Linked DNA regions of Homo sapiens: region 1 is linked to region 2. Evidence: fine-mapped expression QTL. A gene starts in region 2. The other region holds a variant in brackets. All regions are shown on one strand. Distances are from middle to middle.

Region 1 (5,385 bases), 200 kb before region 2:
GTGTAGATTTGTAGATCTATGTTTATGGATCCATCCATTTATCTATCTATTGATCAAAAGATCCAGAAGATGCAGTTTTAGTTTATTTGCTAGTTTGTATTTTCTGATTTTCTACAATGCACATGTACTATTATAATAAAAAGGCATATTTTAAAATTAAAATAGGTATATCTTATGATATTTTAAAACAGAATGGACACCCTATATTTCAGGGCTGTTGACAGGCACATAAGCCCTCACAGTCAGCTAGCCATTGATTTTCAGAGTTTCTTCATTTACTTCAATTATTGATAAATATTCAGGATTGCTAGTAAATATGTTCTTTACTCATGTGATTCCTTTACCATCTTTTTTTAGAGGCATTCAGAAGTCCAGTATTTCGACATGGAACAGATAAGAATGGATTCAGCTTGGGTTTCAGTAAAAACATGCGACAAGTTTTTGGTGATGAGAAGAAGTACTGGTTGCTACCCATTTTTTCAAGGTACTTCTTTGTTAAAATTTTCAGGCTTTAAACTAATGAAAATAATACAGCAAAAGATAGTTTCAGGAAAAGCCTCTAGTTCCATAGGCTTGTAATTCTGTGTAGGAACTCTTATTTTTAAAAAATATTATTCTATGATTCACCATAATATCAGTGTGGAAGTCAGTTAATTCATCATCTTCCTGAACACTATGTTGAGCTCAATGTCTAATACACATTTTTTTTGCCTAGAGTATAGCATGTTCTGCTCTCGGACATCAGCATTTTGGCAGGGTTTCACTCCGTTGTCTTTTGTATGGTTCAGTTCTAAATTTTTATTTTAATTCTAGTCTAGGTGATGGCTGCTCCTTTCCAACTTGCCTTGTTAACCAGGATCCTGAACAAGCATCTACTCCTGCAGGGCTGAATTCCACAGCTAAAAAGTAATCTCATATTTTTTTTCATTTTACTTTCAAATAAGATATTTTACCATATTGTGTCTTTTGGTTATATGTTCCTTTGAAAAAAAATGAAGACCATAAGAAAATTTACTGCAATGGTTTCCACTTGAAATGAGGGAAAAAAGAAAGTATGATTGAGGATACATTGGAAGCTTCAATTATACTTGTAAAATGGTGTTATTAATCTAAGTGTGAGTAAAAAGGTGTTAATTGTCTATACATTTTGGTTGACTGAAATATTTTTTAAATGTAGTGCTTAAAAGAAAAAAAAATGTAAGTCAAAATTAGCTACCCACTGCTCAGGTAGGCAGACAGGGTAAAATCGCCCCTGACCCACCATATCTTTCCTTTCTGTGATAACTGTTAGAGTAAAGAAACTTGAGGCTTTTGGAGATCAAATGGACCCCCAGACACCTTCTTGACAACTCCATTTTAATGTATATTATGGACTTAGTGCCCTTGGAAGACCTCTAAGGATTATCTGAGCCATTTCTGTGGAGAGAGAAGCCAGAGTCTTAGAAATTCATTGTCTGGAGACTTTTGCTCCAGCTTTAAGTTTGTTTTGATTCCAGACTATCAAGAATTTGAGGCTGGCCAGAGAAAGACCTGACATTTCATTCTGAACGTGCTACCAACTGGCAAAAGGAAAAGTTACTTAAACTTTTAAAATGCTATGTATGAATTTTCAGTGGTTTGAAACACCAGTTTTTATACCTTTGTGACAGATTTGAGTATAACCATTCCTCTGATTTTTCAATGAAAGCCAGTAGCAAAAGCATAACCATAATATCATTCTTCATTAAACGTTAGAGCTTTTCTTAGTTGCTGCAGTGCCACATACACAGTATCCACACCAACACTCCATATTGAACATTTCTTACTGATCACAGGACTTTTTCCTAGGGAGCCTGGAGTGACCCCATAAACCTCAAGGCAGTGTTCCTGGTAGCCATTCTAAAGTTCTTTTTGTTGTTGTTGTTTGTTTGTTTGTTTGTTTCCATTTTAGTTTTGAGACAGGGTCTCTCTTGTCACCCAGGCTGGAGTGCAGTGGAGTGATCATGGCTCACTGCAGCCATGACCGCCCAGGATCAAGCGATCCTCCTGCCTCTGCCCTTTTAAATTGGGAATTAAATGTAAAAGGAATTTATATTTAAAATCCTTTTAAATTGTCAAAAGAGATGAAAGGTATTTGTCACCCCATCCCTAGAGTGAGCTATGTACAGGCCAGACCCTACCAGTTAGTGAATGGGCCCAGTGTATATATTTCACAGGGACATTCATGGGCATCAGAGTTTTTTACTAGATCATGCCTTGTGCATTTGGGCTTGAAAATCCCACAGAGCTAAATGTTTATGGTTTTTCATATACCTCAATGCAGAAAAATCTAGTTTTAATAAATTATTCAGAATACGTTTCAAGCTTTTACAAAATTCAGTAGTAGTTTATAATACTTTTTTGCCCTTTGTGTTTTTTTTAATAATTTAAGAAATCATTTTGGTTTTAGAGATAATATTTCTCCTTCCACTAAGGGCACCATGAGATTTGGGAGAAATCTTAGTTCTGACACTGTTACCCAACTGGGTGATCTTGAAGAAGTTAAATAATCTTTTGAGGCCTCTGTTTCCTTTCCTTTGAATGTTGAGGTCAGATTTAGACAGCTAAAGTCTCTTTCTTCTGCGGAATTCTACTATCTCCCATGTTGAGCCCAGATAAAATTTTCGTGGCAAGTTCTGTTCTCTTCTTTACTCCAGAGTTGAATATCTTGCTGTCTACTTGACACACCCACTTGGACACCTAAAAATCATCTCCAACTAAACAGGTTCAGAGCAGAACTTTGAATTTGATTCCCAGCCATGTGTACCCTCATCACCACCCTAAA[C/G]CAGAATCTCCTCCATGCTTCCATTATCAGTATTAGTGACCTCCATTCTCCCACGTGTTCATGCTAGAAACTGTGGGGTCATCCTGGATTCCTCTCTTTCAATTACTTTGTATTTACTCCATTTGCAAATCCTATCAGATGTCTCTTTAAAGTATATCTATAATCTGAATACTTTCTAACCACCTCCAAGGCAGCTTTCCTGGTCCTAGCCCTCATCCCTGCTCCCATGGATTACTTCAGTAGTTTTCTAACTGATGTAACATTTTTGCCCCACTCCAATCTATTTTCCCTTCAAAATATAAGTCAGATTGTGTCACTCTTCTGCTGAAAGCTCTATTAGTTTCCCATCTTACTCGGAATAAAAGCTAATGAATGTCTGTTCCATCACTTAACAAGACTGATCTGACCCCAGACAGTCATTCTTTTTTTTTTCTTTTTTTAATGGAGACAGGGTCTTCCTGTCTCTATTAAAGCAAGTTAGTAATGTCTCTGTTATAATAAAATGTCTCCATTAACAGCCCGTTGCCCAGGCCGGAGTGCAGTTTTGTGATCATAGCTCACTGCAGCCTCACACTCCTGGGCTCAAGCAGTCCTCTCACCTTGGCCTTCTGGATGTCATTCTTTTTTACTTTCCTTTCACTTACAATCCTCAGACACAGATCTTGCTGTTCCTCACATGGACCAAGCATGTTCCTTATGTAGTGCCTTGTCCTTGCTAATTCCCTTTCCTTACCATTCTTCCTCCAGATCTCAGTGAGCTGTGTCTTCTCTTTATTTATATTCTGTTCGGGCGTAACTTCAGAATAGAGGGAATCTTTGATAACCCTTTGTAAAATAGTAACTTTCTCCGCCTCTTCCTGTTACACTGATTTTTTTTTTCTTTTTTTTTCTTTTTTGAGACAGTCTCATTCTATCACCCCGTCTGGAGTGCAGTGACGCAGTCTCGGCTCACTGCAACCTCTGTCTCCCAGGTTAAAGCAATTCTATTGCCTCAGCCTCCCCAGTAGCTGGAATTACATGTACACCACAATGCCCGGCTAATTTTTGTATTTTTAGGAGAGATGGGGTATCACCATATTGGCCAGGCTGGTCTCGAACTTCCTGACCTCAAGTGATCCACCTGCCTCAGCTTCCCAAAGTGCTGGGATTACAGGCATGAGCCACTATGCCCAGCCTGATTTTTTTGATTGTTATAGCTCTTATTATCACCTGACTTATTTCATTCATATATGTATATATTGTTTATTTCTCTTCCTCCATAACAGTGAAATTTCCATAAGAACAAAGACTTTGTTTATTAAAGTGACAGGTGCTCAATAAACATTGTTCAGTGAATGGATTCTTGCCCTTTGCTAGAGTCCTGTTAGCAGTAATGAATCTTCAGAGTCCCTAAACCAGGATCCCAGGATCTGGTTAGTCTTCTGTACCCGTTATATGGTCCCTTTCTTGAAGAAGAATAAGAATTAAAGTAAGATTTTTTATATAATATATTTAAACCTGTGTGGAGATATGCTGTTTTCTGTTTTTTAAGATTTACCTCCAAAATTTTAGTAGGTAGTTGTTAAAGCTGCACAAAATTGAAATATTCTAAAATTTTAGATATGAGGTAATTAAGAAGAAAAAGCATACGCATATATCCTTTAAAAACATAATAGTTACTATATATAATTGAACTCAAATATGTGAAATTATTCTTGAAAGAGTTTTAAGTCGTTTTTTTCTTTTGAATACTGTTACAATTACTATTTCAGAACATTATAAAACATCACTAATAGTTTCTATGCCAATAATGTTTCCTAAGTGAAATATTTTTATGTATACTTTTTCATGCCATCCAATATGTTGATGTATGGCATTTCCACCTAAATTTTAAAGAAAATTCTTCTTAGAAGACTGCTCATTCCCCAGACTGAACATTGGGTTTGTAAGACCTGATAATTTCAGATGTTTTTTATATTCCTGCAAAATAGTTTGCTCAAAGTTGTTGTTTCAGTTTTACAGAAGAAGATAGAGAAAATTGTGTTCAAGACCAGTTAGGCCACTTTAGAAGCTGTAGGCCATTTTTTCCTCAACTTTGTCTTCCTACCATCACATTCATATTTTCTTCCATATCCACATATCACTTACAAAATTAATATTTTTCTGTATTTAAATTGGCACTTATGCTTTTTTTAAACCAAAGTTTATACCACTCTCATAAATGAGAAACTCGCGTAACTTTCTATAAATAGAATATAACTTTAAAAATAGGCCCGGTGTGGTGGCCTATGCATGTAATCCTAGCACTTTGGGAGGCTAAGGCAGGAGGATCACTTGAGACCAGGCATTTGTGATCAGGCTGGGCAACATAGAGAGTCCACTCTACAAAAAATAAAACAAAATAATTAGCTGAGGGTGGTGGTGTGGTCCCAGCTACTCGGGAGGCTGAAGGAGGAGGATTGATTTGAGCGAAGGAGGTTGAGGCCATGACTGCACCTCTGCACTCCAGCCTGGGCAATAGAGTGAGATTCTTCCTCAAAAATAAATACATACATAAAATTGATAATAAAATACTGTTATTAAGTTCTAAGTACCTGCTAAAG
Region 2 (5,385 bases):
GACTAAAGCAGAACACAGAGGCTGTCATGGATATTACACAGTCTACAGCGAGTGAATGACTTCCATTGTAACAGAAAAGCAACTGTACATTATACATGCATACAATTCTTTTCCTCTTAAAACTCTACTACCCACACAGTAAATATTGCTATAAACCCACAGTGGGCCAGAAAAACAAACTTTGTATACACTCCTTGCAAACCCAAGACATGAAACCATGAAATCGAAGGAAATTTACCTATAGTTTCACCAAGTATAATGGAAGCAAATAATAAAGATGAATATGACCAGTAACAATTATATATTTAACTCTGCAAGCTCTGTAAGTAATGTTGTTCTCTTTTTCATTTAGACTGTGAAAATTAATTTTGCCCTTAAAAATGTAAAACAAAAGGAGGATGTTATTTAACCTCAAGGAATCATTTATCTTTGACCATTGTTATTGTTTTCAGTTTCTTTAGGGTTGTAATTATTTATTACAATATATATTTATACAAGTACATGACCACTGTTGAAAATGCTCCTAGTCCTCCTTAAGTCCTTCCATGTTAAGACGGCTCTTCTAAGAAGGCTTCCCTTGACCTTGAGGGCAGAGCTGATCCTCTCTTCAGTCTCCCTCTCTACCCACTGCACCTTGCACATGTCTCTATCATACACTGACATATTTACAACTGCCTCCCCTTAGAGATTGTGAGTTCCTGGACGCTTCCAGCACTTAACACAGAGCCTGGCACATGAAAGGTTCTAAATGCTTGTAGAATAAAATAAATGAATAAATGAATCCGATCCATCCAACCTCTGTAATTTCTTATTTTTTTCACCAGCTTTATCCCAAATGTTAATGACTCACCCAATTCAGTAACACTTCAGACAATTTTCCATTTTCCCCCAATTTGTTTCCATTTCCAGATAAATAAGGATTTCTGACTTCAAGTACTGCACTGCTTAGAGGGTATCCATAAACACCAATTTTAAGAGTAAGAACACTGCTTGCAACTCAGGTTCACACGTGACTTTGTACCAGGTGGCTTTGTATATAGAACAGAAAAGGCCTTGACTCCCCCAAATTCATATTCTCTAACAAAGTGGCATCCACTGCCATGTCACTGTATCATTCTTGCTATCAATATCCACAACAGCTATCACTTTTACAAACGGCTCCCTTCATCATGGAAGGAGGAAGAATGCCCTTGGCAAGGGCAGAGTCCATGAGTTAAATTCACCCTTCTGGAATAAATTATTTAGTACCACTTAAACTCTGAAAGCTTTGAGCCACCTATTCTGTGGTTTGTAGCATTGTCTTCTAAGTTTACAATTTCATGATTGTGAAGCGACAACTTAATTCCCTAGTGCAAAATCAATACAATTTAAATTTACTGTCGGAACTGACATTCTCCAGCAAACTAAAAGATTTCTTCTTCCAATGACATGAGATCATTTTAATCTGCTTTTACAAAAAGGTACTCAGGAACTATTCCAAAATTTAGGAATCAATTCTTGCTGGCCATAAAGCAATTGCCCCCACCCCTCTTAAATGTGTGGGATCCCTGGAACCACCTGAGCTATGGCCACTCTGACCTAGCTTTGACCTGTCAGGGGCCTACATTTTGAATGGAAGTTCATCCTGCAAAAACGCAAGGAGCTGTGGTGGTAGTAACAACAGACAGCCAATAGGGTTTTTAAGCATATTCTTTCACTCGTTTAGGGTTTTTATCATGCAGTAACGTCGATCATCATTTTCATTCTAAATTAGATTATCAGTACAACTGAGGAGGAAGATTTGGTACAGCGATCAACGTTTCCAATGTTAATTTACTGGAGTGATCAGGGACCATTTGCTTTTGTTAATTAGCAAAAGCTGGTGTTGTTAAAACACAACAGTGCGTGACGAATCCGTAAGCTGCATCCTTTTCTCTAACGAACAAAACGGACTGGAAAAGGCAAGAACACACCATCATTCAACCTACAATGAATATTGATTATCCGTTCTGTGTAAGGCCCCTTGCAGCTGCTACGCTCAGGATGAGGATGCTGACTGGGAAGGCCGAGCCGGGTGGGCCTGACACCCTAGATTTAACAAGCTTCCAAGCGCAGGAGTCCCTCTGCATTTAGCTCGTTTTCCTTGCACCTGTCACCGAAAGGCTTATTTCCCTTTCAACTACTCTGAGCGGCCAACAGCTAAAAGAGAAAGCCTCGTGCCAGGAGAAAGAAGGGTTGATCTACACCCAGTTACTAGCAGACAACTGAGGTTCCCTCCCGTTCACCCTTGTGTCCACTGCGCTCCCCCAAAACCAAGAGGTCAGACCCAGCAGCAGCTAAGGCTAGGCCTGGGAGGCAGCAAGAGAACGACCGGGCTCGCAGGCACCCCGGGATGCTCAGGCAATGCCTGCTCCTCCCTCGCCCGCGGTCCAGGCTCCGCCGGTGCCCCTCAAAGCAGTCGGCCTCCCGCGCGCTCAGCATCCCTCCTCCTCCTCCCCCATCTCCTCCCGTCCCTCCTCCGCCCGCGCTGGTGTCACCAACCTTGGGCGTACGGATGTGCTCCATGGCTGGCCCACGTCTGCAGGGTCCCGGGCGGGCGCGGCCTCACGCACCTGCGCGCCTCTGCGGCGCGATGGGAGGGGCGCGGGGAGGGGGCTTCGCGCCCGGGAGTGGGCGGGACGCGGTCTTGGCTCCGCCCCCAGGTGTTCCGCGCGCGGCGTGCGGACCCGGGGCTCCCGCGCGGCCCTAGAGAGCCCACCTCCGCGCCTGCGCCCACCTGCGCCGCCGCCGCGACGCGCCTCTGCCTGGGGTTGCCGGGGCGAGGGCTGCTCGCTCTCTCTTAACAGGGGCAGCCGGCGGAGCACTATACGGCCACTGTTCTCCGAGACACAAAGAGGGCCTTGTTTTGGGTGTGGCCTCCTGGAAGAGAGATGGGGAGTACAGGCTGCTCCACACCGTCCCTGGGCTTCCTTCTAGGGCGTCCTGGGATAGCTAGGATTTCAGGGTGGGGCAGAAAAGAAGGCTGCCACAGACACTCTAGACCCAGGACGGTCTTGTAGGCTCAATGTGTGTGTTTCATCCCAGGCGCGGCCGGCATAGCGCTCGGGGTGCGGGTGGAAATAATAGCAGCAGTGTTAGCGCCTTGGTAAGCGCGCTCCTAAGTCAGGCATCTCACATCCACCTGCGACTTCACTGTTGCAGGCGACACTTTTCCCCTGGCACAGTGTTGGGTGCTCATTTGCCCTCTTTATTTAGCTCCAACTGAACTGAGAGATAGAGATACAAAGCATCCATTATGCGGTACCATTTCCCTATTGATGGTATTAACAGTAGTTGGTGCCATTGTTAGCGTTAGGCCTCTTGGGAAAAGCCAAAGAGAGGAAGAACGCCCTCCATTTTTTTTTTCTTGCAGCCCTAAGAGTACAATGCTCCACCATAAGTGAAATTTTATAGAATTCTACATAGTTCTGTTCAATTTTTTCCTCGCTCTTACTCATCTTTCAGGCTGGATTGTGATTTTTTTTTTTTTTCCGTAGAGACTCTGCTTACCGTTTTTTTATCTAATACCTGGACACATTGCAGCCTTCCAGCAAATAATTAATACGGTGTTGAATTTATTTTTAAAATTCCAGATCCCTCTTTCACAGGTCTTCTACCATTTCATCCTCCTACTGCTTTGGGAGGCAATTAGAACAAGTTTACCATTAGTTTACATTATTAGAAGAACTACTCTGGAAAGCCACAGCTGATTCTTTTGGAAGTGAAAAGAACACTTTCGTTGTTGTTGTCACATAAAGCCACTGAACTTTAACGCTGAATTGAGCCTAGCCTATACTATGTTGAAGTGGAAAGGGAATTTGAGAGTCAAAATAATGCACTGTCTCTACCTTTGTGTTTGTGATTTTTTTAAAGAGGGAGTTGGTAATGCCTTTAAAGATCTCTAGGGACACCTAACCATAAGCAAGACCTAAACTACTTGATTGCAAGTTACCAAACGTCTTCTAGAGAATTCTTCTTATGCAACTTTTATCACATAGATAATTCAGTTGCAAATACTTTTGCTAACAGAATTTTAAAATACAACCTTGATTTTAACTGGGCATTTTCCCAAAATCCTGTGATATTCAATGGCCTGAGGAGATTTGAATTCTTATCAAAAACACTTGCAAGACTTTTTCCAGAATACTTATATTTCTCTTGAGGCAAGGCAAACTTCTGATTTGGCAGTGAGACCAAACCCTGTTTCCTTAGGGATGGTATTGCTAATTATTACAAACTCAATACGATCCTATTCAGCGTAATTAAACCCAAATGGACCATATTATAAGTGGAGGAGGGAACACATCTCTGAATAAACTCAGCCTCATCTGGAGTCACTCAGTATGATAGGGTCAGAGCTGCATTTGGGGTTCTGCCTGGCAAAAAGTAAAAGCGGCCTCTCTTCAGGATTTTTATGAACTCAATGATGCAATGTATCAATGTCTCTGTTGGCCTTGCCCTATAACAAAGATGTGGAGGAAAAGCACTCAGTGGATTGCAGTCAGCTCTGCCCTTTTTCTAGCAGCCAAAAGGGAAATTCTAGGGCAGCATGAAAAGAGTGTTTACTCTGTGAACAGTCAAGGCTTTAAAATAGCCTCCTCCCAAAACTGTGAAACTGCTGGAATAAAACATAGGGGAAACTCTTCAAGACATTGGTCTTGGCGAGGATTTTTGGGATAAGAACTCAAAAGCATAGGCAGCAAAGGCAGAAAGAGACAAATGGGATTACATTAAATTTAAAAGCTTCTATACAATAAAGGAAACGACAGAGTAAAGAGACAGCCTACACAAGGGGAGAAAATATTTGCAAACTACGCATTTGCCAAGGGGTTAATATCCAGAATATAAAAGGAATTCAAACAACTCAACAGCAGAAAAACCAAATAGTCTGATTTAAAAATGGGCAAAAAAAACTGAACAGAGATTTCTCAATATGAGACCTACAAATGACTAACAGGTCTATGAAAAAATACTCAGTATCACTAATGATTAGGAAAATGCAAATCAAAACCACAGTGAGCTATCACCTCACCCCAATTAGACTGACTATGATCAAAAAGACTAACAATAACTAATGCTGGCAAGGAGGCAAAGAAATGGGAACCCTTATGCACTGTTGGCAGGACTGTAAATTAGTACAGCCATTATAGAAAACAGTATAGAGCTTCCTCAAAAAATGAAAAATAGAGCTACCGTACGATCCAGCAATCTCACCAGTGGGTATTTATCCAAAGGAAATGAAATCACTATGTTGAAGAAATATCTGCACTCCCATGTTTATTGCAGCACTATTCACAATGGCCAAATATGAAATCAACCTAACTGTCCATCAATGGATGAATAGATAAAGAACATTTTGTAGAGATA

Which allele goes with the higher level. Alleles are on the strand shown, and positions count from the first base shown. SD is a standard deviation of normalised expression in the study named.
With allele C in place of G in region 1, the expression in skeletal muscle of the gene that starts at base 2,603 in region 2 is higher (moderate effect, 0.66 SD a copy in GTEx).

What was found. PIP is the estimated chance that this variant, and not a neighbour inherited with it, causes the effect.
Region 1: its variant is fine-mapped to the expression of MTMR7 in skeletal muscle (GTEx, PIP above 0.99).

The regions. Positions count from the first base shown.
Region 1 is chr8:17,209,575-17,214,959 of GRCh38, forward strand. ZDHHC2 (zDHHC palmitoyltransferase 2) reads left to right here. Exons shown (of 13, transcript NM_016353.5): 9 at 358-484; 10 at 814-906. Among named protein-coding and RNA genes, the nearest start is that of CNOT7, 35 kb to the right of the region's middle. The variant C/G (reference allele first, on the strand shown) is at 2,804.
Region 2 is chr8:17,410,749-17,416,133 of GRCh38, forward strand. It overlaps MTMR7 (myotubularin related protein 7), which reads right to left and starts at 2,603. Exons shown (of 14, transcript NM_004686.5): 1 at 2,521-2,603. The coding sequence starts at 2,544.